Linked DNA regions of Homo sapiens. The protein of the gene in region 1 purifies or fractionates together with the protein of each later gene. This does not show direct contact. Each region holds a gene or a part of one and is shown in the gene's direction. Other genes may lie near its edges.

The links.
Region 2: the proteins of KCNQ3 (region 1) and TRAPPC9 purify together in Homo sapiens (affinity purification with mass spectrometry; one large-scale study listed by BioGRID and IntAct). This does not show direct contact.
Region 3: the proteins of KCNQ3 (region 1) and YME1L1 purify together in Homo sapiens (affinity purification with mass spectrometry, with the first as the bait; one large-scale study listed by BioGRID). This does not show direct contact.
Region 4: the proteins of KCNQ3 (region 1) and AKT2 purify together in Homo sapiens (affinity purification with mass spectrometry; one large-scale study listed by BioGRID and IntAct). This does not show direct contact.
Region 5: the proteins of KCNQ3 (region 1) and IPO9 purify together in Homo sapiens (affinity purification with mass spectrometry, with the first as the bait; one large-scale study listed by BioGRID). This does not show direct contact.
Region 6: the proteins of KCNQ3 (region 1) and WDR73 purify together in Homo sapiens (affinity purification with mass spectrometry; one large-scale study listed by BioGRID and IntAct). This does not show direct contact.
Region 7: the proteins of KCNQ3 (region 1) and CAND2 purify together in Homo sapiens (affinity purification with mass spectrometry, with the first as the bait; one large-scale study listed by BioGRID). This does not show direct contact.

Annotation. Positions count from the first base shown.
Region 1 is NC_000008.11:132,124,596-132,128,095, reverse strand, and holds part of KCNQ3 (potassium voltage-gated channel subfamily KQT member 3), read left to right. Parts: 3' UTR 1-3,500. UniProt on the Homo sapiens protein: Pore-forming subunit of the voltage-gated potassium (Kv) M-channel which is responsible for the M-current, a key controller of neuronal excitability. M-channel is composed of pore-forming subunits KCNQ2 and KCNQ3 assembled as heterotetramers.
Region 2 is NC_000008.11:139,727,225-139,730,484, reverse strand, and holds the end of TRAPPC9 (trafficking protein particle complex subunit 9), read left to right. Parts: 3' UTR 1-2,760; downstream 2,761-3,260. UniProt on the Homo sapiens protein: Functions as an activator of NF-kappa-B through increased phosphorylation of the IKK complex. May function in neuronal cells differentiation. May play a role in vesicular transport from endoplasmic reticulum to Golgi.
Region 3 is NC_000010.11:27,130,385-27,133,884, reverse strand, and holds part of YME1L1 (ATP-dependent zinc metalloprotease YME1L1), read left to right. Parts: intron 1-1,943; coding exon 1,944-2,026; intron 2,027-3,500. UniProt on the Homo sapiens protein: ATP-dependent metalloprotease that catalyzes the degradation of folded and unfolded proteins with a suitable degron sequence in the mitochondrial intermembrane region.
Region 4 is NC_000019.10:40,243,846-40,247,345, reverse strand, and holds part of AKT2 (RAC-beta serine/threonine-protein kinase), read left to right. Parts: intron 1-3,500. UniProt on the Homo sapiens protein: Serine/threonine kinase closely related to AKT1 and AKT3. All 3 enzymes, AKT1, AKT2 and AKT3, are collectively known as AKT kinase.
Region 5 is NC_000001.11:201,832,157-201,835,656, forward strand, and holds part of IPO9 (importin-9), read left to right. Parts: intron 1-3,500. UniProt on the Homo sapiens protein: Nuclear transport receptor that mediates nuclear import of proteins, such as histones, proteasome and actin. Serves as receptor for nuclear localization signals (NLS) in cargo substrates.
Region 6 is NC_000015.10:84,641,535-84,644,283, reverse strand, and holds part of WDR73 (integrator complex assembly factor WDR73), read left to right. Parts: intron 1-560; coding exon 561-814; 3' UTR 815-2,749. UniProt on the Homo sapiens protein: Component of a multiprotein complex required for the assembly of the RNA endonuclease module of the integrator complex. Associates with INTS9 and INTS11 in the cytoplasm, stabilizing the INTS9-INTS11 heterodimer and blocking the active site of INTS11.
Region 7 is NC_000003.12:12,813,680-12,817,179, forward strand, and holds part of CAND2 (cullin-associated NEDD8-dissociated protein 2), read left to right. Parts: intron 1-1,461; coding exon 1,462-1,754; intron 1,755-2,187; coding exon 2,188-2,329; intron 2,330-2,694; coding exon 2,695-3,500.

The DNA of each region.
Region 1 (3,500 bases):
CACCCAGTTTATCCAGCAGGAGGGGGATTTCCACTTTTATTGCAAAACATGCTTGCTTGATGCAATGCATTTCAGATCTAGAAAAAAATAATGCAAGCAAGCTACATTTACAGATGTGTAAACAGGCAAAATTTCCAGAACCGTCCAATTTTACTTTTCCAAATTTATGGAACCAACCCAGATTTTTTAAATGAAAATACTAAAACCATATGTAACCGTAAGACAAGCTAAAATGTAAGCAGACAGCCTGGGAAGCACTGCCCTACTGTACAGGTGTGATATTAAGCACAAGCCATCCTCTGGCCTCTTATGAGATGTTGTTATTCTCTGAAAAACTTTGATGGAAAAGGTTTCTGTTAGGCTTAGACTGAATTAGCTAAATGACCATGCCACAGTATTATTGTATCACTCTTCTCACACACCTAGGCACTGGTTGTGGATAGTTGCCATGGTGACAATCAAGATAATCCAGATGACCTAAACAAATGTCTGTATGCAGCTGACACTGCTATTCTCCCTCACAGTCTTGTCAAGAGCCACAGTAGCTATGGCAGACATTTGGTTGATGGTTTCATCATTTCCTAATACGAGAGTCTGGCACTATGTTGGAGAGAGGAATCACTTCCTCAGAGATAGGTTCCTTTCAACTCACATGTCAACAGTTACTGTACAAAAAGCTCAGAATACAGTAATGATTAGAGCTTGACCCCTGACTTTAGGAACTTAGAACCAAAGCCCAAAGTCCCAGGCCAAGGGCAGACATTGTGAGCAGCAGAAGGGTGTTTTTTATGGAGAGCCCCATAAATGGATGGGTGTAGACCTTGAAGTCTGAGATGGGAAATATACCAGAATGCTCAATGCATCAGACATGAAGCCCCACGGGCTTCCATTTGACATGCTGGCAATCTGAAGGACAAAGGGCATGGGTTATTTGGGCCTTTTCCCCACTCCTTCAATATGGCTGAAAGTGCCAGTGGGGATTACAACCTAAGAAACCCTATGCCCCTTCCTGAGGGCTTGATTATTGAATCCTGATCTTCCTGGAATCTTTCACTTGAGATGATCACCTGCCTAACATCCAACATGTTACTATGCTCTTCTTTATGTACATGAGTTACTGGAAACCAACAATAAAGGAGAGTGAGTCATACTCTCCACATATGCGCCAATTAATTTTTTAACTTACTTATTAGTATTCTTGAAGAACTTACTATCTTAAGTATTTTACCAATAGATGATGCATTTTCCAGCAACTCAATGGAGTTCTACCTTAAAGTATTTACCATTGATCCAAAATTGGAGGAACTACCTTAGATTCTTTTAATAACCTAGAAAGGATTGGAGCTTGTATTATTTCCTAAACCATAGGCAGGCAGTCTAGCTTCCCTGCTGGATCATAAGACCAGGACAGCAGAGATTGGGTTTGTATTGATCAGTAGTAGGGAAGTATTGATTGTCTAACATCTAGTAAGTTGTCTTTATCAGTATAGACATAGACAAAATACATGTTTTATGAATGAATAAATAATAAGAACCTTAAGAGCTGTTTTTTTCCCATTTAAGAAAACAAAAAGGAAAAGAGAAAAATGATCTTCTGGAATAACTCTGCTTTGATATTCTCCTTTTGTTCCCCAAAAAATATATTCCAGAAAGGCAAACCAAACCTGCTCAAGTTGCCTATGCACAGACAATCTCAACAATATGGCTCACAGTGAGCAAGCAGAAATTCAGGGTCTGGAATTGAATGTGAGTTATGGGAAGAAACAGTGTGTGCTTTCACAAAGATCCTTTTGTCAGACAAGGGAACAGCATGATAATCCAATGGAACTGGTTAACATGACCCAAGATGACATGACCACAGATATACTAGTCGTTCTGAAACTTGCCCAAGAAATTGCAATCGTTTCAGCAGAACTCCATGAAATATTGACAAATTAATTCCATCATCAAACTAGGAGTGATATTATCAGGTAAAACTATGATCTCATGTATGTATTTGGTCTTTCTGGGTCACAATGTGACATGAAAAATTTTAAAGGTCATATTTTAGCAAGATCAAAATGAATTAGATAAATCAACTTCACAAATGTTAAGCGAAACATGATCCTATTGAGCTGAGAAAGAAGTACTTGAGATCGTTTGAGTTTTGACTATCAAATGTCAGCACAAAAGCAAATATCAAAAGCTTAAGAAAAAAATTATTTCAGGAAAAGAAAAACACATCAAATTGAGAAAGTGTTGTTGAATAACTTTGTTTTTAGAACTGGAAATTTAGGCTTATTAGACATGACATTGATATTACAAAGCCCTAGTTTTCATGAAAACATAACTAGATAACCCCAAGGTGTATAGGTTAAAATGAACTAATTAATCAACAATTATGCATCCTGTGTCTATTTTGTGCAAGGTACTTCCTAGACACTGTAGTTTGAAAGAATAATTTCCTGTAGAAAAACCTAATCTAATAGGACCTACTCATAATTTGGCAAAATCATCCTCATAATTCCATGCTACTGAAATGGGGGTGTAATAAAGAAAAAATCATTTGTTTATTCATTTAACAGGGTTTATTAAGCACCAATATATGCCCAGAACTTTGCAGTGCACTGGAAGTTCAGAGATAAGAAAACCACAGTTTCTGCCATCAAAATGCTAGGAATCTAGAGGTCTCAAACATCAGAGGTCCCTTCAAACTATGTCTACCAGGAAAATAAAATACCTGATTTCATCCCTGCAAACAACTCTATACAGACAGAAATGCTTCCTAGCTTGGAAACTATAGAAAATTGAACATGAAAATGAGAGCAAAGGTTCTACATCAAAATGGCAATGATCCAATCAGCCCAGTCAAGGCTGAGTGGGTTGAATGGGGACTTCGAGTTTGGATTCAATGCTTTGAACTTCATAGCTCCAGAGAAGCTGTGCAAAAAGGGGGGATTCTAGGGAATCTGAGGAAGATTGTTGGAGAAACCAGCTTTCTTCTTGTCTCCTAATCCCTGCTAAGATTGATACCAGTCAAGGAGCTGAGTTACTTTCATTTCATTATGTTGACCAAGAGAAGCTTATGATACAGACTATGACACAGCACCTATTTCAAGAGAAAGATGTTACTCTACTTATGGGAACCTGCAGATCAAATTCTCCTGGGGCAAGAGAAGAAATTTGTTCAGCAGCCTAAGAAGTCAACTGTACTTTGGACAGTGCTGCCAAACACACCCCAGGATTCTCCCACCCCTGTGCTTTCCCAGAAGATGCCACATAGCTGGTATTTGGTTTTCATGAATAACCAAAGATTCTTCTTTGCTTCCTGAACCCCAGGCATCCTTAGGAATTTGCTTCATGTCCTCACTTGTCCTTGAAGGCTTGTTTTTCAGGATGAACTTTTAAAGTCTAAGTTGTTTATATTCAAATCAACCCAATGCTATTGTTGCTGATATTAAACCATTCCAAACTGAGCCAACTGGCCCCTAAACAAGCCAGCAGGCAGCCCCTCACTAATG
Region 2 (3,260 bases), 7.6 Mb from region 1:
TGGTGGGCAAATGTCCAGGCCTGGGCTGGCAGCCCAGGGCTGTTTCTGGGTGCTCCCTGGCCCCAGGGTGGCGTCTGGTTACCATGGCTGTGTGTGTCCATGTCTGCAAGCAGTTCTTCAATAAATGGCCTGCCTCCCCCTCCCTGCCTCCCTGCATCTGCTAGCCCAGTGCAGTCCGGGGCCCCCACCCAGCCCGTCAGCCCCCACCTCAGGTGGCTGGCTTCCCAGCAGAAGCCGGACCCAGGAAGGGACGGGTTCTGAGTTAGAGATCTCACATAAGCAAACGCTGAGACAGGAATCTGGTCACCAGCAGCTTGTCTGGGAGGTGGAAGGAGGCCTGCAGGGGAGGGAGATCACCAGTGAAGGAGTGTGACTGGGCCCGAGCTGCCGCCACAGTGGGCAGCTGGCCCTGCGTTCCTCAGGGAGGACCGGAGAGAGAAAGCACACGGCTCACATCTCCCTTGAGGGCCAGAGCTGGGGTGTGTCTACACTACCCACAAGAGTCCTGTTCTGGGGGCAGGCTTCTGGCTGTGTTGACCCTTAGCTCCCCAGGTCCCAGGGAGGATAAACAGCCCTTGGTCCCCAGCAGATACCAGGCTCGTCAGGTGCCCGTTGGGCACTGAAACTCCCATGGAGTATTGGGGGACAGAGAGCGGGGCTTCCTAAAGGCCAGTTGGCCAAACAGGCAGAGCCAGGAAGTGGCTGCCCTGGCCTCCCATGGGGCAGAGTCATGTTGGCATCAGGAGGCCTGCGGGGCTGAGGGAACTTCCTGAGGACCTGAAGTCCCAGGCCCAAACCTCCCTCGCTGGGAGCAAGGTCACCCTGTGGCCTCCGGCCTAAGGAACAAATTTTTTGTTCCATCTGTGGCCTCCTGTTGTCGCTCAGTGAATGATGGGAGCACACTGTGATGTGGTGTGGGCTGGGGGCATGTGGGGGCGGGTGTCCAGTGGCCCTCAGTTCCTGGAGCTCATTCAGCATCTGCTCGAGGCTCCCCAGGGAAGGCAGCCCCAGAAGGTCTGGCTGCAGTAGGGGGTGGAGACCCCAGGGCGGTCTCTTCAGCCCTTCCGTTCAGGATGCCTCAGCGTAGTTGAGGGCCTGGCCACCTGGGCTGTTTCTGAATGGAACAAACAGCATCCATGTGTGTCAACCTCAACAGAGCCCAAAAATACGCCATTGAATGAAACAACACATTGCAGGATGATGGGCTCAGCCCAACCTCACTTGTGTAGACAATGTCCCCCCAAATTATAAATTTTCTATGCCTCAGAACGTGTCTATAACAACATGTTTAAAAGGTAGAAAGGATACACATCCCCTGTAGAAGAGTGACCTGAACTGGAGTTGCATTTGACATCTGATGTCAGCATGAGGGTGCTGGTCACCGGGGACTTGAGTACGTACTTTCCTTTCAAAAGCACAATAGATCAAGATACAGGTACACACATAGCTACAGATATAGATCCAGCCACAGATCCAGATTAGATATAGATGCATATAGAAGCCTAGAAAAGCCAATATGGAAAACTCTGGCAGTGTTTGATTCTGAGTGGCAAGCATATTGGTGACTGTAATTATTTCTTGCAGTTTTCTATATTTTTTAGTTTCCCAAACTGCAAAAAATACCCACAACAGTTACCAGAGAAAATGCTGGATGCCACAAGAAGGAAGAACCTCAAGGGGCAGGAGGCAAAGTTGTCTTCTTGGAGGAGGGGGTGTTAGAAATAACCCAGGCCTCCTGGAAAATGACCCAAATACAGCCTGGCTCTGCCAGCCCCAGGCCCTTCCCCACCCCCAGGGCACCCTTTCTGTCCCAGTAGAGAAGGTGACCTGGAGTCAGGCCTTGTGTGTGCTCCAAGCGTTTGGAGCTTTACCGTGGGATGTGGGGAGCCAGGGGTGTTGTTTGCTGGCATTTCTGTGGCTGGGTCTTTCTGGCTGTGGAGCTGTGTTTGTGGGCAGTGGCTGAGATGGAGGACCTGGGGCAGGTGTCTCAGTGACAGCGCAGTATCCTCCAGCCTCTTCCAGGGCCCCACGCTACTGGCTACCTGGCAATACAGTCCAGCAGTTGCTGCTTCTCTAGGCCCCTGGTGCATTCAGAAACCTCCTGAAGGCCAGCGGAGGGTAAGCCAGGAACAGATCATGTCCATTGCACTTCACTAGCTGAGCGAGTTGGTTCTGCCCTTCTGATCCTTGGTCCCTCAGGGCCAGGACAGGCCCGGTGACCCCATAATCATGCAGCCGTCATGCTCCGTCATCTGAAATTCACAAGGAAGGCAAGGATTCAAAGGAAGATGTCTGAGATGCTGAACTCCAGCTCAGCCACTTGTCAACTCCTTGACCTTGGACAAGTTACTTAAATTAAGCCTTGATTTTTTTTCATCTGAATAAATAGAGATAAAAATACTTATTTCATGGACACTTTCATATCAGTTTATTTGATTTAACCTCCTAGATTTTTTTTTAGCACATGATAGCAACTTCTTAATAAATACTGGGTCCCTTCTCCTAGCCTTCCCATTGCTGTTCTTTTTAATTCCATCCACATGTCCTGTGCCTGAAATATCCTGTGCCATGTGCCTGAAATTCCATTCTTCTCCTGGAACCCTTAACAGGCCACATTGCTATGCTCCGTTAGTCCCCTGCATGGCTTAATGTATTAGGTAACATGAAGCATGTAAGGAAGAACTTTCTAACACAGGTGCTGAAATGGGACAGGAAATGCTGATGGAGTGAGCTCTTTGTCAATAGAAGTATTCAAGCAAAGTCCGGACCTGTAGATGGTTTCAAAACATGTAAGCATCATTTGGGGCTTCTGAGCCTACCAGCCAAGAAATTGTCAATGATGACTTGTTAAGAGGTATTTCTGATCCCAGTAAGCAGGGAAGAGAGAGAGATGTATGTGACCACATGGCTCTTGGGGCCTCAAGCAATGTCTTAAGACACAATAAATTTTGATCAAAAAAGGCTTTCAACATGAAGGGCTAGAGATCTAGACTAAGGGTCTAGGCTAAGCCTCTTACTGAAAACACATTTGTAAGTGCATCCATGACCCGGCAGGAGAGTCAGAAATATTCACCCCAGTACCTGTGTGTAGGCAAAGTCCTGGGAGGTGAGCTGTGCACTGATGCCAACTTCCACTTTGAGGGGTTTTGCCAAAGCTGGAGTATCAATGTCTTCAGCCTTCCAAAACTGGAGGAAAGATGACAAAGCTCAGGGCCCACTGGCTGGGGAATCGAATAGATGACTGCTCCGCATCAATTTGA
Region 3 (3,500 bases), on another chromosome or scaffold:
TTTAGAAAATGATACCTGTCCAATTATAAAATTTAAAAATTATCCTGGTCAACAGGGTGAAAGGAAAATTAATTAATTAATTTTAAAATTATGTAGAAGAATTTTATAATGGCAATACAAGCTGAAATAGTCTTCTATTTCAAAGATAAACAAATTCAGTTTATTCATAAAATCACATTAAATGTTTCCCTTTTTTTTAGTTTGCTTATCTGAAATTAAGCAATAGTGTCAGACTTACGTGGTTCCAATTACCTTTTCCACTACTGTGCAGTTTTCACCCTGTGTTGCCTATTCTCTTAAATATTAAGGATATGTACAGATTCTTAAAAAATACTTTGTGGGCCAAAACTATTGGTGTTCATTCTAGAATTACTATTTTAAATTTGTTTTCCCAGCTTCTATGTTCCTGATTTATTAAGCATTTCTCCTTAACCCCATATTTTGCCAGCTCATTTTTCAGCCTATCTTAACAGTATTTTGGGCTTCTTCTGAGGAAATTAGAAATTGCTCAATTTACTCATTTATAACTGCTCTAGTTTGGAAGTTTCTACCTGAGTGGGAAAGACTTAAGAAATCCTTGTAATAGTTCTCCAAAATTGATCTCAAATATTTTACTCTCCTATCAGACTTTTTCTGTCTTGCTTGTCAGACTTAATGTTGTCATAATTGATAGGTCATTTGAGGGCAAGTAATAACAGTTGTCAGAGGAAGAAGACTACATGAAAAGTATAATAATGTGTTAAGCCTCAATTTTTTATTAATGTGTGTCAATGTTTTCTGCTAACTTTAAGGCAATGTGTTTCAAAGTGTAGACCTGTGACCAATTAGAATAATTGAAGTGTTTGTTAAAAATGAAAATTCTCCTGGGCCCTGTGCTGTGGCCTGAGAATTAACATACTTCTCAAGTGAGTTTTATTCACACCAAAGTTTGAGAAACTTTGATTTAAGATTTCTATCATTAGATACTACAATAAGAAGTAGAAAATAATTTTTGATTTTATTAACTGAAAAGTACAAATAGGTCATTTTATTTTATTTTTTTATTTTATTTCATTTATTTTTTTTGAGATGGAGTCTCGCTCTGTTGCCCAGGCTGGAGTGCAGTGGGGCAATCTTGGCTCGCTGCAACCTCCTCCTCCTGGGGTTCAAGCAATTTCACTGCCTCAGCCTCCCGAGTAGCTGGGACTACAGGCTTGCGCCACCATGCCCAGCTAATTTTTTGTGTTTTTAGTAGAGACGGCGTTTCACCGTTAGCCAAGATGGTCTCGATCTCCTCACCTTGCGATCTGCCCGCCTCAGCCTCCCAAAGTGCTGGGATTACAGGTGTGAGCCACCACGCCCAGTCTTTATTATTTTTTATTTTTTCAAGTTTATTAAGAAAGTAAAGGAATAAAAGAATGGCTACTCCATAGGCAGAGCAGCCGAAATATGTCTTTTTAACGTGAATCACTTACTCTTTGAAGATGGTTTAGAAATCCAGAAGACCAGCCGGGCGTAGTGGCTCACGCCTGTAATCCCAGCACTTTGGGAGGCTGAGGCGGGTGGATCACCTGAGGTCAGGAGTTCAAGACCAGCCTGACCAACATGGAAAACCCTGTCTCTGCTAAAAATACAAAATTAGCCGGGTTTGGTGGCGCATGCCTGTAATCCCAGCTACTTGGGAGGCTGAGGCAGGAGAATCGCTTGAACCTGGGAGGTTGAGGTTGCAGTGAGCCAAGATCGTGCCGCTGCACTCCAGCCTGGTAACAGAGCAAGACTCTGTCAAAAAGAAAAAAAAAGAAATCCAGAAGACCTAGTTTCTATTCCTCACTCTGATTTGATATGTGAAGTTAGGTCACTTAGACATTTAATTTTTCTAGGCTTTGCTTTCTTGCATCTAAAAAACAAGGTGATTGGAATGTTATTAATCTATCAAATATAAACATTTCTTTTCTTCCCTTTAGTCCGCTTCCGGACAACAACAGGGCTTGATTCTGCAGTAGATCCTGTCCAGATGAAAAATGTCACCTTTGAACATGTTAAAGGGGTAAGTTAAGAAGATTGCCTTGCCTTCTTCATACATCCTCTAATTGATACTCTATATGAGGTCGATATTTGATTCTACAGTGTATTCTAGAATAGGTAAAATTGTGTCCAAAAGTATTAGAAACATTAGTATTTTGGGATAAATAATAATAGCCAAGGATCAAATCTTGCTTTATGGCAGGGGATAGTATAATTTATGAAGGAGCAGCCTGGTGTAGTGGAGTGAATGTGGACTTCAGAGTCAAGCTGACTAATGTTTGAAATTCATTTTTATACTTATTAGCTATGAGACCTTGAAGAAATTACTTTAGATCCTGACAGATAATGTATGTGCTTGACACATAGTAGATATTTAATAAATGGTCCTTCTTTACCTGTACCTCTTACTGATCTTTGTAACTCCACTATCTAAAACATGTTAGACAATGTATATTTCTTGAATGAATAGAATGGATAAATGCTAGTTTATAGTTGATTAATTTGTTAAATATTTAATAGTATTAAGTGCTAGGCCCTATTTTAGCTGCTGGGATAGAATAAATAATCTCTGCATTCTTAGAGTTTAAACTCTAAAAGCAGTAATTGGACACTGATATGTGATGTAAGAAAAAGTAGAGTATGTTAAAAGAATAAAAGTGTATGGAGGAAAAAGTAGAGCAGGGTAAAGAGGATTGGGAGTTTTGAGAGAAGGCTTACAGTTTTAAATGGAGTGTTCAAGGTGTGATTGATGGAGAAGGTGACATTTGAGATAAAATCTGAAGGAGAAGATGGAATAAACTGCATTTATCTGAGAAAGGAACGTTTCTGACCAAAGGAACAGTTTGAGCAAAGGCTCTCAAGTAATAGGGTGTCTGACTTGTTCATTTTTGAAAGTAGAACTAATAGGATTTCTTATTGGAACGTAGGGTGTAAGAGAAAAGAGGAGTCAAAAAGAGCCACAAGATTTTTGGTCTCAGCAATTAGAAGGATAGAATTGACATTTACTGAGATTTTTGTTTTTGTTTTTGAGACGGAGTTTCGCTATTGTTGCCCAAGCTGGCGTGCAATGGCGTGATCTCGGCTCAGTGCAACCTCCACCTCCCAGATTCAAGCGATTCTCCTGCCTCAGCCTCCAGAGTAGCTGGGATTACAGGCACGAGCCACCACGCCCAGCTAATTTTTTGTGTTTTTAGTAGAAACAGGGTTTTACCATGTTAGCCAGGCTGGTCTTGAACTCCTGACCTCAGGTGATCCACGCAGATCAAAGTGCTGGGATTACAGGCGTGAGCCACGGTGCCCGGCCTTTAGTGAGGTTTTAAAAGGCTGTGAGTGGAGCAGATCTGGGGGACAAAGGTTAGAAATTTAGTTTTAGGTATGTTAAGTGTGAGAGATACGAATGAAAGTGTTGAGTAACTTGGATATACCACTTTGGAGGTATGGGAGAGGTCTGAGCTAGAATTAAAAATAGGAGATTATATTTATATGTATGTTAAGTC
Region 4 (3,500 bases), on another chromosome or scaffold:
CTCTTGAGAATCAAGCGAGGTGGTGTCTGGAGCTAGCCACTCAGTGCTGTTATTTTTACAGTCGTGGTTTACCCAGGGGCTCTCCTCTGGGGGCTAGAAGATACTTGAGGCCCAGCTTCATGGGGAGCTCCCCTTTGCCCCAGACGCCATGTTGCAAACCCTTGAGAAGGATCCTGGACAGAGGCCCTTGCTTTTCATCTGGAATTCTGAGTGCTGCAACCTTGCAACTTTGGTCCAGTTAGAATTGGATCGGAAGCTAGTCAGGCAGCAGGCGAGCCCCAGTTACTCCCAGATAACCTCCTGCATTGCTGTGGTTTCTGGAGCTTTCTGTAGGGTGGGCAGTGGGAGCCAGGGTAGGTGGGGTAGGCCCGCCCCTGCGAGTGTCTTCGGCACCCTCCCTTCCACCCCGCCCTGCGCGCGGTGCTCTGCGCCGACAGCCCGCCAACCTCTTAGCCCCAGGCCCAGGCCCTGGTGGAGGGGAGAGCTGGGAGGGCTGAGCTGGTCCAGGTGGCAGAGCCACTCTTGGAGCCCCAGCTGGGGTGGGTCCAGGGCCTGTGCTCCTGATTCCCATCTGGAGTAGCCTCCCAGAGCTGCTTCTGGGCTGGTGGTGTGGCAGTGCCATCCTTCATGTATTTGGGTTCTCTCCACAGAGGGACCATCTGTGTTCTCTCCACCCCTGTCTTTGAAAACAAAGATGATACCACGCTGTACATCTTAGTCTGCAATCTGCCATCTTCACGTGACAGTCTCTCAAGATCTTTATATATGAGAGACATATTTTCCTTTTTAATATCTTCACTGTATCTCTTAGGAGATCTGTGATTTTTTTTTTCCCAATCCGCCATCATTTACTCAGAGTCAGCATTAAAAAAATTTAAAATTTGTGAGAGGACAACTATGTCTGATAAAGCATGTCATGGAAGGCTGGGCACAGCAGCTCACACCTGTAATCCCAGCACTTGGGGAGACCGAGGCAGGCAGATCATGAGGTCAAGAGATCGAGACCATCCTGGCCAACATGGTGAAACCCTGTCTCTACTAAAAATACAAAAATTATGGTGGCGGGTGCCTGTAGTTCCAGCTACTCTGGAGGCTGAGGCAGGAGAATCGCTTAAACCTGGGAGCCACTGCACTCCAGCCTGGCAGCAAAGCGAGACTCTGTCTCCAAAAACAAAAAGAAACAAAAAAGAAAAAAGCCTGTCATGGAATGGGCTCCTGCCCTGTCCCCGGCCCCTGCTTTTTTTTTTTTTTTTTTTTGAAAAACAGGAATATTAGTGTAGGGTTTGGGAATTAGGCTGTAATTTGTTCCTAAGGGGGCATGGGTTAAAGCAAGTTGAGAAATACTGGCTTGAGATGTTGGGCCAGGGAGTGCAGAAGCCAACACCGCTCTGCCCGGGTGTGCACCAGGGCTCAGTGCGTGCTCTGCCCGGGTCTGCACTGGGCCCTGCTGCGCCCTGGCCCTGGGGCCACTTGGACTTTGGCTGCCTCACTCTTTCATTACCCAAGTATCTACTGAGTATCCACCATGAGTTCTGGGGGCAGAACTGTGTTCAAAGCAGGTGGAAATCTCTGCCTCCGTGGGGTGGACATAGATGGGTTATGGGGACTCCAGTCTCTGAGTGGGTGGGGAGGGCAGCGTGCCTTTTGTAATTCCAGCTACCAAGCCTGGAGCAACTGCTGTTTTTCTGGAATCTGTTTTTTCAATCTGTGCCCCAGTTCCTCCTTCATAATGGGTGGGAGTAGGGATAGTTGATGATAGCAAGTGCTTCCCATTTGTTATTAGAGGCTGTTCCTTTCCTTCGACTCCCAGTTCCCCTCCCTTGGAGGCAGGCAGGGCTCCAGGATCATGACTTCTCTTCTGGAGATGTTTGTGCCTATGTGAGCATGTGTCTGCAGAAGTTCATTATTTTCTAACTTAGGAGCACAGAACTGTATACTGTTCTTCACCTTCCTTAATTTTGAAATTTTTTATAAAGGCGTGGTCTTCTTATGTTGTCTAGGCTGGTCTGGAATTCCTGGGCTCAAGCAGTCCTCCAGCCTCTGCCTCCTAAATTGCAGGGATTACATGAGTGAGCTACCTTGCCCATCCCTGCACCTTCCTTTTTCTCTTAAGAAGTCTCAGATCATCCCAAGTCAGCATACAGACCTGCCTCAATCTTTCCCCCAGCTGCAGAATGTCTCATTGCACAGATGCCTCACAGGCATTCTACCTCACGACAGCCTGTGTATTAAACACTGCTGTGATATTTCATCAAATCGAAGGCGCTGTCATTGGGGAGGCACCCTGTTTCATATAGTGCCAAGAAAAAGGCGTGCCCAGTTAAATCAAGACAGACCCCAACTGTGAGATTAATCTGCATTCCAGCAGTGTCAAAATGTGGAAGAGGGTGCGTTGTGGGATGGATGGAAATAGAAGTAGTTTCGCGTGGTACACCAGGAAACGAGACTGGGGAGGAATACAGCCCAGCAGGGTGTCCCGGCTTGGATTTTGAAGCCCAGTCCCAGCCACACTTGTTCCCTGCCTGACCTTGGGTAGGGGCCCCAGTGTCTCAGGAACACAGGAGCAGTGACACTTGCCCTGGGGCGGGGGCCATCCTGGAAGATGCTGTGAAGGGCTGGCTGCACTCCCTGTGGCTTATTTAAATCACTGGGATTTGCGTGATTACACTCTCTGAATTTTCTCATTCTTAGTGAACATTTTATTTTTCTTGTTGGTCATATGAGTATTTTCTAGATACAAGCAAAATACACGGGGGGTTCAAAATGCGTTGGGTTGAAACACCTAATTGCAGTGTGGTCAAAAATGGGGGATGTGGACAATTTGGTGTAATTCAGCCTAATATATTTTTCATTTTGGTCTCTGGTCATTTTCACTTATTAGACAGAACAGTTTGTAAGTATCCAAAGAAAATTATTTTGTTTTTTTTTTAGCTGATTGCAGTGGTATGATCATGGCTCACTGCAGCCTCCACCTCCTGGGCTCAAGCAGTTCTCCCACCTTAGCCCCCTGAGTAGCTGAGACCACAGGCATGTGCCCCCACACCTGGCTAATTTTTTATCTTTGGTCTCTACAAAGTGGGTATCCATGTTGCCTAGGCTGGTCTCAAACTTCCGGATGCAAGCCATCGTCCCGTCTCAGTCTCCCAAAGTGCCAGGATTGCAGGTGTGAGCCACCGAGCCCAGCTCAAAGACAGTTCTTTCTCAGCAAGTTCTAAACCATGAGTGACAGAACTAGTTTATTGTTCTTTATTTTATTATTATTATTATTATTATTATTATTATTATTATTTTATTATTATTTTGGGATGGAGTCTCGCACTGTTGTCCAGGCTGGAGTGCAGTGGCGCGATCTCGGCTCACTGCAACCTCCGCCTCCCGGGTTCAAATGATCCTCTTGCCTCAGCCTCCCGAGTAGCTGGGATTACAGGCGCCCGTCACCACGCCCGGCTAATTTTTTGTATTTTTAGTAGAGACTGGGTTTTACTATGTTGGCCAGGCTG
Region 5 (3,500 bases), on another chromosome or scaffold:
TCCCAAAGTGCTGGGATTACAGCCGTGAGCCACTGCACCCAGCCCACATTTTAGTTTTACCCTGGTAGAAGGAACCTTGTTTTCTGATTCTAGGAAACACTTTTTTTTTTTTTGAGACCGAGTCTCACTCTGTGGTCCAGGGCCCAGGCTGGAGTGCAGTGGCATGATCTCAGCTCACTGCAACCTCCACCTCCCAGGTTCAAGCAATTCTCGTGCCTCAGCCTCCCAAGTAGTTGGGATTACAGGCATGCACCACCATGCCTGGCTAATTTTTGTATTTTTAGCAGAGGCGGAGTTTAGCCATGTTGCCCAGGCTGATCTTGAACTCCTGAGCTCAAGCAGTCTGCCCACCTCAGCCTCCCAAAATGCTGAGATTACAGGCATGAGCCAACCGGCCAGGCCGGAAACACTCTTAAAACTTGAAGTTAATGAGAAATCTGGGATTTGGTGTCTATTATTATTTGTGTTCTGGTAATCTTTTGATCATTTTTTGGTTCCATGGGGCCCAGGATCAGGTGACAACCAGATCTAGTCCTCCCTCTGTCCTCTCAAATAACCACACTGTCTTTGTGAGCTGTTTATTAGTCCATCACATAGGAGACTGATCCCACATGGTCTTTAAGATTAACTGGTCCGTTCCCTTTGCCAAAAACATTTGTTACCTTCCTTGGCTACCAGGTGATGATCCCTTGTCTTGAAGATTAAATGGAAGAATATCTAATTTATGGGGAAAGGACACAGGTCAATTGTCAACTCCCTGTTAAAAGGACAGGCAAGAGAAGTTGACATGCTGTGACCAAATTGTACTATAGATGAGATTTTAAGAAGCAGTTATCTTAGAAAATAAAGATTGCTGGAGCCTAGAGTAGTCCTGATCATTTAGTGTACCAGCTGATATTTTCTGATAAATAAATAAATTGCCTATAATTAATTATCACATTTTCCAGAATGGGCACCTGTTCTCTTAAGCCAAGGAAGTGTGTGTATGTGAGAGATCCATTTGATTCATGTAGCGTGTCAATCTGAAAAGGATAAGATAGGTTACTTCATCAGCCTGGTGTCCTGGAATGATTTTTTTTTTTTTTTTAATTTTATTTTTTGAGACAGAGTCTCGCTCTGTCACCCAGGCTGGAGTGCATTGGCATGATCTCGGCTCACTGCAACATCCGCCTCCTAGATTCAAGTGATTCTCATGCCTAGGCCTCCCAAGTAGCTGGGATTACAGGCGCGTACCAACACGCCAGGCTAATTTTTGTATTTTTAGTAGAGATGGAGTTTCACCATGTTAGCCAGGCTGGTCTCGAACTCCTGACCTCAGGTGATCCACCCACCTTGCCCTCCCAAAGTGCTAGGATTACAGGCGTGAGCCACTGCGCCTGGCTGGAATGATTTTCTTGAGCCCCTGTGCTTGCTATTTTTGCTAGTCACTTGGAATCTGGAAGAAACCCAGCAAACCTCTCTGAATATTTAAAGTCTATTTAACAGGGCTAATTAGATAAGGAGATGATGCCAGTAACCACCTTCATCAGATAGCACTCCCATCCTGAATTGAGAAGAACATTGCTTGAAAGTTTGGAAGTTATTATGGTGTACAGTATTCTGCAGATAATTGTTAACCTTTCATTTTTCTTTCTTTCTTTTTTTTAAGATACAGAGTTTTGCTCTGTCACCCAGGCTAGAGTGCAGTGGTGTGATCATAGCTTACTGCAGCTTCTAACTCCTGGGCTTACGCAGTCCTCCCAACCTCAGCCTCCCAAGTGGCTGTGACTACAAGCACATGCCCATACTTGGCTGATTTTTTTAGTTTTTTTCTGGAGATGGGGTCTTGCTGTGTTGACCAGGCTGGCCTTGAACTCCTGCCCTCAAGTGATCCTCCTAAAGTGCTGAGATTATAGGCATGAGCAACCACACCTGGCCCCTTTCATTTTTCTTAGGAGGATTGAGATTTTGAGTTTGATCAGGTTTGTAGGAAATTTACTTCTACCTAAATAGGGTAAAAAAAATTTTTTTTAAGTTTTTTTATTCGTTAGAGTAAAAAAACTTTTCTTTTCTTTTTTTTTTTTGTTGCACTGCTAAGAGTCTAAAGCATGCTTTCTAATTCTGTTTTGTTTAATAGGCAGGTTCATATTAAGCACTTTACAAACATAGTAGTTAAAAAGACTGGAGAGGTTATGAACCACCGAAGATCTCTTACGTCAAAGTCTCATATTCTGTACTCAGCTTCATCAACTCTTTTTCTTTTGTTTTTGTCTGACTTACGGTGAGATCATGAGAATTACCATCTTTTGAGAATGTCAGCCTTTTATTTTTGGTGTATTCGTGCTTTATTTTTTTATATCTTAAAATGAAGTTCTTTCCCTCTTTTTCTACTTCTTTCTCTACTTTTCCTCTAAGAATGGCATTATCCAAGTGGTGGAATGGGTTGCTTTCATTCAGAAGCTTTAATTCTTCGTGCCAGCATGCACAGACTTTCTTACATAACTAGATTTAGACCCTAGGACATTTTCTTCTTTGCTTATTTCTTTTTTGCCTATTACAAATGATGACATTTCCCCTATCATTTGGCCTTGTCTAGTTCCCAGTAGATAAGTCACAGAGAATACATTTTTCTTCCCTTCTACCACCATTATGTTGAACAGGGGAGGGGGGAAATTATCTCTCCCTCACCTTTCCTGGCATTCAGATGCTGCCGAGATACCTGTATTGATTTCCCCATCTTAGATGCCTAGAGAGATGATCCTGCTGGCTGGAAGTTTGCTTTCTGGTTCTCATGGGCACTTTTCTGGCTCTTTTGCAGTATAGCGTAAGCACTGTCCACCTGCGAAGGGCGCCCCTCAAGGATCCAGACGCACTCCTGGGCATGTGGCGGGCACTGAGCCGAGCGGAAGGCGGCCACGCTCGGAAAAAGGCCAGTGGTGGAGTTTTCTTTTTCCTTTCAGCTGTGGTTTTGTGGTGCTTACCAACTCCCATGAGAAATAGGGGGCTTGTCCAGGGGGTCTACTCAAAACCGCATCCTTCTCCAACAATCCCTGTTCACAATTCTTATTAGTTGACTGTCAAAGTACTGCCAAGTCTTGTCTCTCTAGGAGACCCTTCAGACCAATAGCATGTATTTCTTAAGTGATCCTTTATCCTCCATGCTCTCCTTTGGGTTTTCCCTTCTAAACCAAGTTTTAGATAGATAATGTTTTTGCCATATGGGGTGATAAGAGAGAAAGGGGAGCAAGGATAACGAGAGGGAAGCAAAAGACTAAAAGAGAATGAGACTAGAGAATGAAAGAGGGCAGAGGATTTCTTAGGAAGTCAAAGGATGCCATTTTGGATAGGAATAAAGGTATAATTAAGGAGAATCTAGAGTCAGGGTGAAAACCCAGATTAACAGAATGAACTGTCCTTATTTCACCATGGGAAAGGGAACTAGAGAAATTAAATTTCCTAACAAAAATAGCTTTAGAAAACAACTTCATATAGCCCTCTTGGCAGTGTTGCCCTTTGGCTCA
Region 6 (2,749 bases), on another chromosome or scaffold:
CAAAGGCTTCTGTTTCCCCCATCGAGTAGGAGACAAGGCCATCTGCTGAAAGGGACCCAGAGGTAGGGGACTGGACTCTGGGGCAACTTGAAAAGGTTTGAAGAAGTCTCTTAAGCCTCAGTTTCCTGGGTAAAATAACAGTATCTGTGTCATACAGTTCTGAGGATTAAAAGAGCTAATACTTGTCCAGAATTAGCCTTCGAGCCTCACGCATAACAGGTGCACAACGGATGCTCATGGTTACATGCCCCACGGAGTCATCAGCTGCCAACACTGAGGGCAGATGCTACTTGCCCGTGGTTAGCCTTTTAAGTGCCTTGATTCCTCATCCAATAGCCTGTTTTGGTACCATAGAACAAATTATAAAAAGTATTTTAGGGGCTGGGTGCCTGTAATCCCAGCATTTTGGGAGGCTGAGATGGGAGGATCGCTTGAGGCTAGGAGTTCAAGACCATCCTGGTCAACATGGTGAAACCCCATCTCTATTAAAAATAGAAAGAAAATTATTTTAAAATAAAATTAGGGACTCATTGTCAAGCCTCTCTTTTCTGTATTCTCAGGTTTTGATGGTACAGTCCAGGTCTATGATGCCACATCTTGGGATGGAACACGGAGCCAAGATGGAACACGGAGCCAAGTAGAACCTCTCTTCACTCACAGAGGTCACATCTTCCTAGATGGAAATGGGATGGACCCTGCTCCTTTGGTCACCACCCACACCTGGCATCCCTGCAGACCAAGGACTTTGTTATCAGCAACAAATGATGCCTCTCTGCATGTGTGGGACTGGGTGGACCTTTGTGCCCCCCGCTGACACCAGCATCTTTCCATCTAGGCCTCTAGAAAGGGGAGGAGCTGCTGTAGTAGCAAGGGTGCTCATGTAGGACTCAAGTGACTACCAGTCCCTGTTACCAGCTGTGTGGCCTTGGGCAAGTCTGCCAGCGTCACTTAGCCTCAGTTTCCTTATCTGTAAAATGAGGATAGTAAGAACTACCTCGTAGTGATATTGCGAAGGTTAGAAGAAACGCATGGCATAATTACTTGGTAGCTATTGTTAGATCTGGGAGTGTGAAATGGTAGCGTTTTGTCCCTGTCTTCACACTATCATAGGGAGAATCAAAAGAGCTAACAAATATAAACATGCTTTGTGAATTTTTTTAAAGAAAAAAATGTAGAGGGGCCAATAAACATGAAAAAATCCCAGCCCTAGTAGCAATTAAGGAAATAGCAAAACAGGATTTCTGCTCCTCTTGAGTGGGTCTCATGGGAACACAGGTGCACTTTCCCACACTTGTCCCCCCAGGTGACTAGGTTCAAGAGACATTTGCTTTTGGTGGCCCCACAAACATTTCCTTTTGAGGGCCCATAGTGAATATTAAAGTGTGCTGGACATGGTGGCTCATGCCTGTAATCCCAGCACTTTCAGAGGCTGAGGTGGGCAGATTGCTTGAGCTGAGGAGTTTGAGACCAGCCTGGGCAACATAGCAAGATCCCTTCCCTTAAAAAAAAAAAAAAATTTGGCTGGGCATGGTGGCTCATGCCTGTAATCCCAGCAATGTAGGCAGCCAAGACAGGTGGATCACTTGAGTCCAGGAGTTCGAGACTAGCCTGAGCAACATGGCGAAACCTTGTCTCTACTAAAAATACAAGTTAGCTGGTTGTGGTGGTATGAGCCTGCAGTCCCAGCTATTCAAGAGGCTGAGGTGGGAGGGTTGCCTGAGCCTGGCAGTTGAAGTTTGCAGTGAGCTGTGATCATGCCACTGTATTCCAGCCTGGGCAACAGAATGAGACCCTGTTACACACACACACACAAAATAGATAAGTTGTTCACTCTGTCAGCATCTATTAGCCCTTCCCATGTGCAACACTAATTACATGCTAGAAATACATAAATGAGAGGCTTCCTAAGGTGGTTGAATTTTTTTTTTTTTTTTTTTTGTAGTAGAGATGGAGTCTTGCTCTGTCACCCAGGCTTGAGTGCAGTGGCGTGATCTCGGCTCACTGCAACCTCCACCTCATGGGTTCAAGCAATGCTCCTGCCTCAGCCTGCCAAGTAGCTGGGATTACAGGCACGTACCACCATGCCCAGGTAATTTTTGTATTTTTGGTACAGACGGAGTTTCACCATGTTGGCCAGAATGGTCTTGATCTCTTGACCTTGTGATCTACCCACCTCGGCCTCCCGAAGAGCTGGGATTACAGGTGTGAGCCACCGCGCCCGGCCAGGGGATTTCTCCTGTGTGAATTCGCTGGTTAAGTGATAATTAACTGCAGTTAAAATTCAGGTCAAGCATGTGGCTCATGTCTGTAATCCCAGTACTTTGGGAGGCTGAGGTGGGAGGATAGCTTGAGTCCAGGAGGAGTTCGAGATCAGCCTGGGCACCATGGTGAACCCCTGTCTCTAAAAAAAAAGAAAGATTTTTATTTAAAAAACCTAAACAAATTCAGATAGGAATTTAAAGATAGACCAGGCACAGTGGCTCACGCCTGTAATCCCAGCACTTTGTGGGGGGCCAAGGTGGGTGGATCACTTGAGGTCAGGAGTTCAAGACCAGCCTGGCCAACATGGTGAAACCCCGTCTCTACTAAAAATATAAAAATTAGAGACGGGCATGGTGGTGGCACACCTGTAATCCCCACTACTCAGGAGGGTGAGGCAGGAGAATTGCTTGAACCTGAGAGGTAGAGGCTGCAGTGAACCGAGATTGTGCCACTGCATTCCAGCCTGGGTGACAGGGTGAGACTCCAT
Region 7 (3,500 bases), on another chromosome or scaffold:
TAACACAACTAGGAATTGGCATAGCTGGGCCTTAGAGCCAGGTCTGTCAGGCTCCCCCACCTCTGCACTGCCACCGTGTACCCTTTTATGAATGGCTTTCAGGAGATAATGTCTTTAACCCAGCAGAGGAAAGCTCTGATGGTGGAATGGCAGGCACTGGCAGGGGAGCAAGATGTCTCAATGGGGGTGGACTTGATAGCTTCTTTCCTCCTATGCCTGTGGTCCTGTCTGTCATTCAGACAGATTTCCAGGGCAGAGATGCCCCTAGGCCTGAAGGCAGGGCATCGATGGAGACGATGGATTTAGAGCCTGATGGGGTACTTGGAACAAGATGGGATGGTAAATGAGATTGGACAGGCATGCGGGGGCCTTGAATGCCAAGCCAGGGAGGTGGGACACTTGTCAGTAATAGAGAGCTAAGGATGTGTGTTCGTGGGTGGCCTACTGTGGGGGTGACAGTGATCCATTAGAGGGGATGGCTGCTGAGCTGCCCGGTGGCCGTGGCCCACTGTGGCTGTCCAGACACCACCCTGTGGGTCCAAGTGGTCCACAGAGTGGTATGGGCAAGGCCATGCTGGGCTCTGAGCCTGTGCCTTGGGGTGCTCCCAGGCAAGACTGTCCCCCTCTGAGCCTCCTGTGTGCCTCCACAGGTGATAGGGCTGGGCCTCGTGGACCTGAATCTCAGCTCTGCTGTTCCTCGCTGTGTGCCCTGAGAGTCTCACCCGCTCTGAGTCTTAGTCTTATCGTCTGTAAAATGGAGCTTGGCAGTACCTTCACTTTTGAGGTGATGGTAAAGACTGCACGAGCCCTTGACTTTCAGGGAGATTGTCAGGTAGAAAGCCACACAAACCCAGCATTTCCTCTTTATTAATCCTGCCTGGAAGCCTTTGGAATCAGGACCCTTGAGAGGCAGAGATCGGGGGAGAGAAGAGGCCAAAGGGAGGCTCTGTCCCTTCTCCCTTCTGGAGTCCCAGTAAACGAAACATCACATAGCCAAACCTGATGCCAAAAGATGAGTTTTGTGCCCCAAATTGATTCTCCAAGTCTACATGAAGACTTGGAAGTCTGTTTTTTCCCTGGTACAGTCCAGACAATTAAGGGTCTGGAGGCAGAGGGGAGGACCCTAGTTTAACTCCAAGTATTTCCTTAACTTGGGGCAAGCCACTTCCTCTATCTAAACCCCAGTTTTCTCATCTCTATAATGGGGAAATAATCCCTGTCTCAAAAGGTCGTCATGAAGCTAAAATAAGATTATGGGTTTGACATGCTTAGCCCCATCCGTAGCACTCAGTAGATGCCCATTAAAAGGTAGGGAATGTTCCCCATAGGGTATCTATAAATGCTGATCATCAAAAAGTGAAGCACAGTGCCCAGCTCTCTCTCCTCCCTGTCCCTTCTCCCCCGAGCCACAGACCTGTCCTGGGAGATGAGGGTTCCACGTGTGTCTTGTTCCTGCCCCAGAGAGTGAAGACGAGTACAGCGATGACGATGACATGAGCTGGAAGGTGCGCCGGGCAGCTGCCAAGTGCATCGCAGCCTTGATCAGCTCGCGGCCTGACCTGCTGCCCGATTTCCACTGCACCCTGGCACCTGTGCTCATCCGCCGCTTCAAAGAACGCGAGGAGAACGTCAAGGCTGACGTCTTCACTGCTTACATCGTGCTGCTGCGGCAAACACAGCCCCCGAAGGGATGGCTGGAGGCCATGGAGGAACCCACCCAGACCGGCAGCAACCTCCATATGCTACGTGGACAGGTGGGCGTGCCTTCACCTCCACCCCTACCCCCGATTTGCCTACCCAGCCACTCACTGTTAGTGTCCCTGGACTTGGAAACTCAGCTGGGAGAACATCCAGCCATGGAAGGGAAGGGAAGGGGTCCCTGGGGTGGGGGGCGGGAGCCAGCCAGGCTTCTGGAGTGTAGTAGTGACAGCCAGCCTGCCTGAGTGAGCTTGAGCAAGTTGCTTGGTCTCTCTGTACCTGTAAAATGGACGCAGAAAATTTGCCTACTCTCCAAGGGTCTGTGTGCGGTCACCAAAAGCCTGGCACAGAGTGAGGGACGAGTGCTTGGGAGATATCTTGATGCCGACATCCTCCCTGGGGATGTGTCTGGCAAAGCCTCCTGGTAGTGGGCAGGTGGGTAGGTTTCTTGGGTGTTCCCTGACCTTGACTTCCCCCTCCTGCCCACAGGTGCCCCTTGTGGTCAAGGCCCTGCAGCGGCAGCTTAAAGATCGGAGCGTCAGAGCCCGCCAGGGATGCTTCAGCCTCCTCACCGAGCTGGCGGGTGTCCTCCCAGGCAGCCTGGCCGAGCATATGCCTGTGCTGGTATCAGGTAGGCTGGACTGCAACCAGGTATCTGCTGTTCTGGGCCACTTCCAGAACCCAGACCCCACCCCTGAGTTGAGCCCCCAGTTCCTGAGACAGTCTGAGACCCAATCCCAGGCTCAGTCCCTGGTCAAGAGTCTCCAGTGGCCTCCCACTACCAGCAGTGAGAACAAGGCTGGCTCCAGTGAGTTCCCTGGACATGTTTCCCTCAGCCCTGGCCACTGGTCAGGGCTGACTTCTTGGAAACTTCTGCAGAAGAGTTTAGGTGCTTCAGTCCAGCTCAGGCACTTGTAGGTACCCCAGCCTTGCTTCCAGGGAGGGCCGTGTTGCATCAGAGGCGGTGGCCTCATAACCTTTGCATTCACCCTGCAGGCATCATCTTCTCGCTGGCCGACCGCTCCAGCTCCTCCACCATCCGGATGGATGCCCTGGCCTTCTTGCAGGGGCTGCTGGGCACCGAACCAGCTGAGGCCTTCCACCCACACTTGCCTATCCTCCTGCCACCTGTGATGGCCTGTGTGGCTGACTCTTTCTACAAGATTGCAGCCGAGGCCCTGGTGGTGCTGCAGGAGCTGGTGCGGGCCCTGTGGCCGCTGCACAGGCCTCGGATGCTGGATCCTGAGCCATATGTTGGAGAGATGTCTGCTGTCACCCTGGCGCGACTTCGTGCCACTGACCTGGACCAGGAGGTGAAGGAGCGGGCCATTTCCTGCATGGGCCACCTTGTAGGCCACCTGGGTGACCGGCTTGGGGATGACCTGGAGCCCACGTTACTGCTCCTCCTGGACCGCCTGCGGAATGAGATCACCCGGCTGCCCGCCATCAAGGCGCTTACGCTGGTGGCCGTATCCCCACTACAGCTTGACCTACAGCCCATCCTGGCCGAGGCACTGCACATTCTGGCCTCATTCCTGCGGAAGAACCAGCGGGCTTTGCGACTGGCCACACTGGCAGCCCTGGACGCCCTGGCCCAGAGCCAGGGCCTCAGCCTCCCACCGTCTGCCGTGCAGGCCGTGCTGGCTGAGCTGCCTGCCCTGGTCAACGAGAGCGACATGCATGTGGCCCAGCTGGCTGTGGACTTCCTTGCCACAGTGACCCAGGCCCAGCCAGCCTCTTTGGTGGAGGTCAGTGGCCCTGTGCTCTCAGAGCTGCTGCGGCTGCTGCGTTCGCCCCTGTTG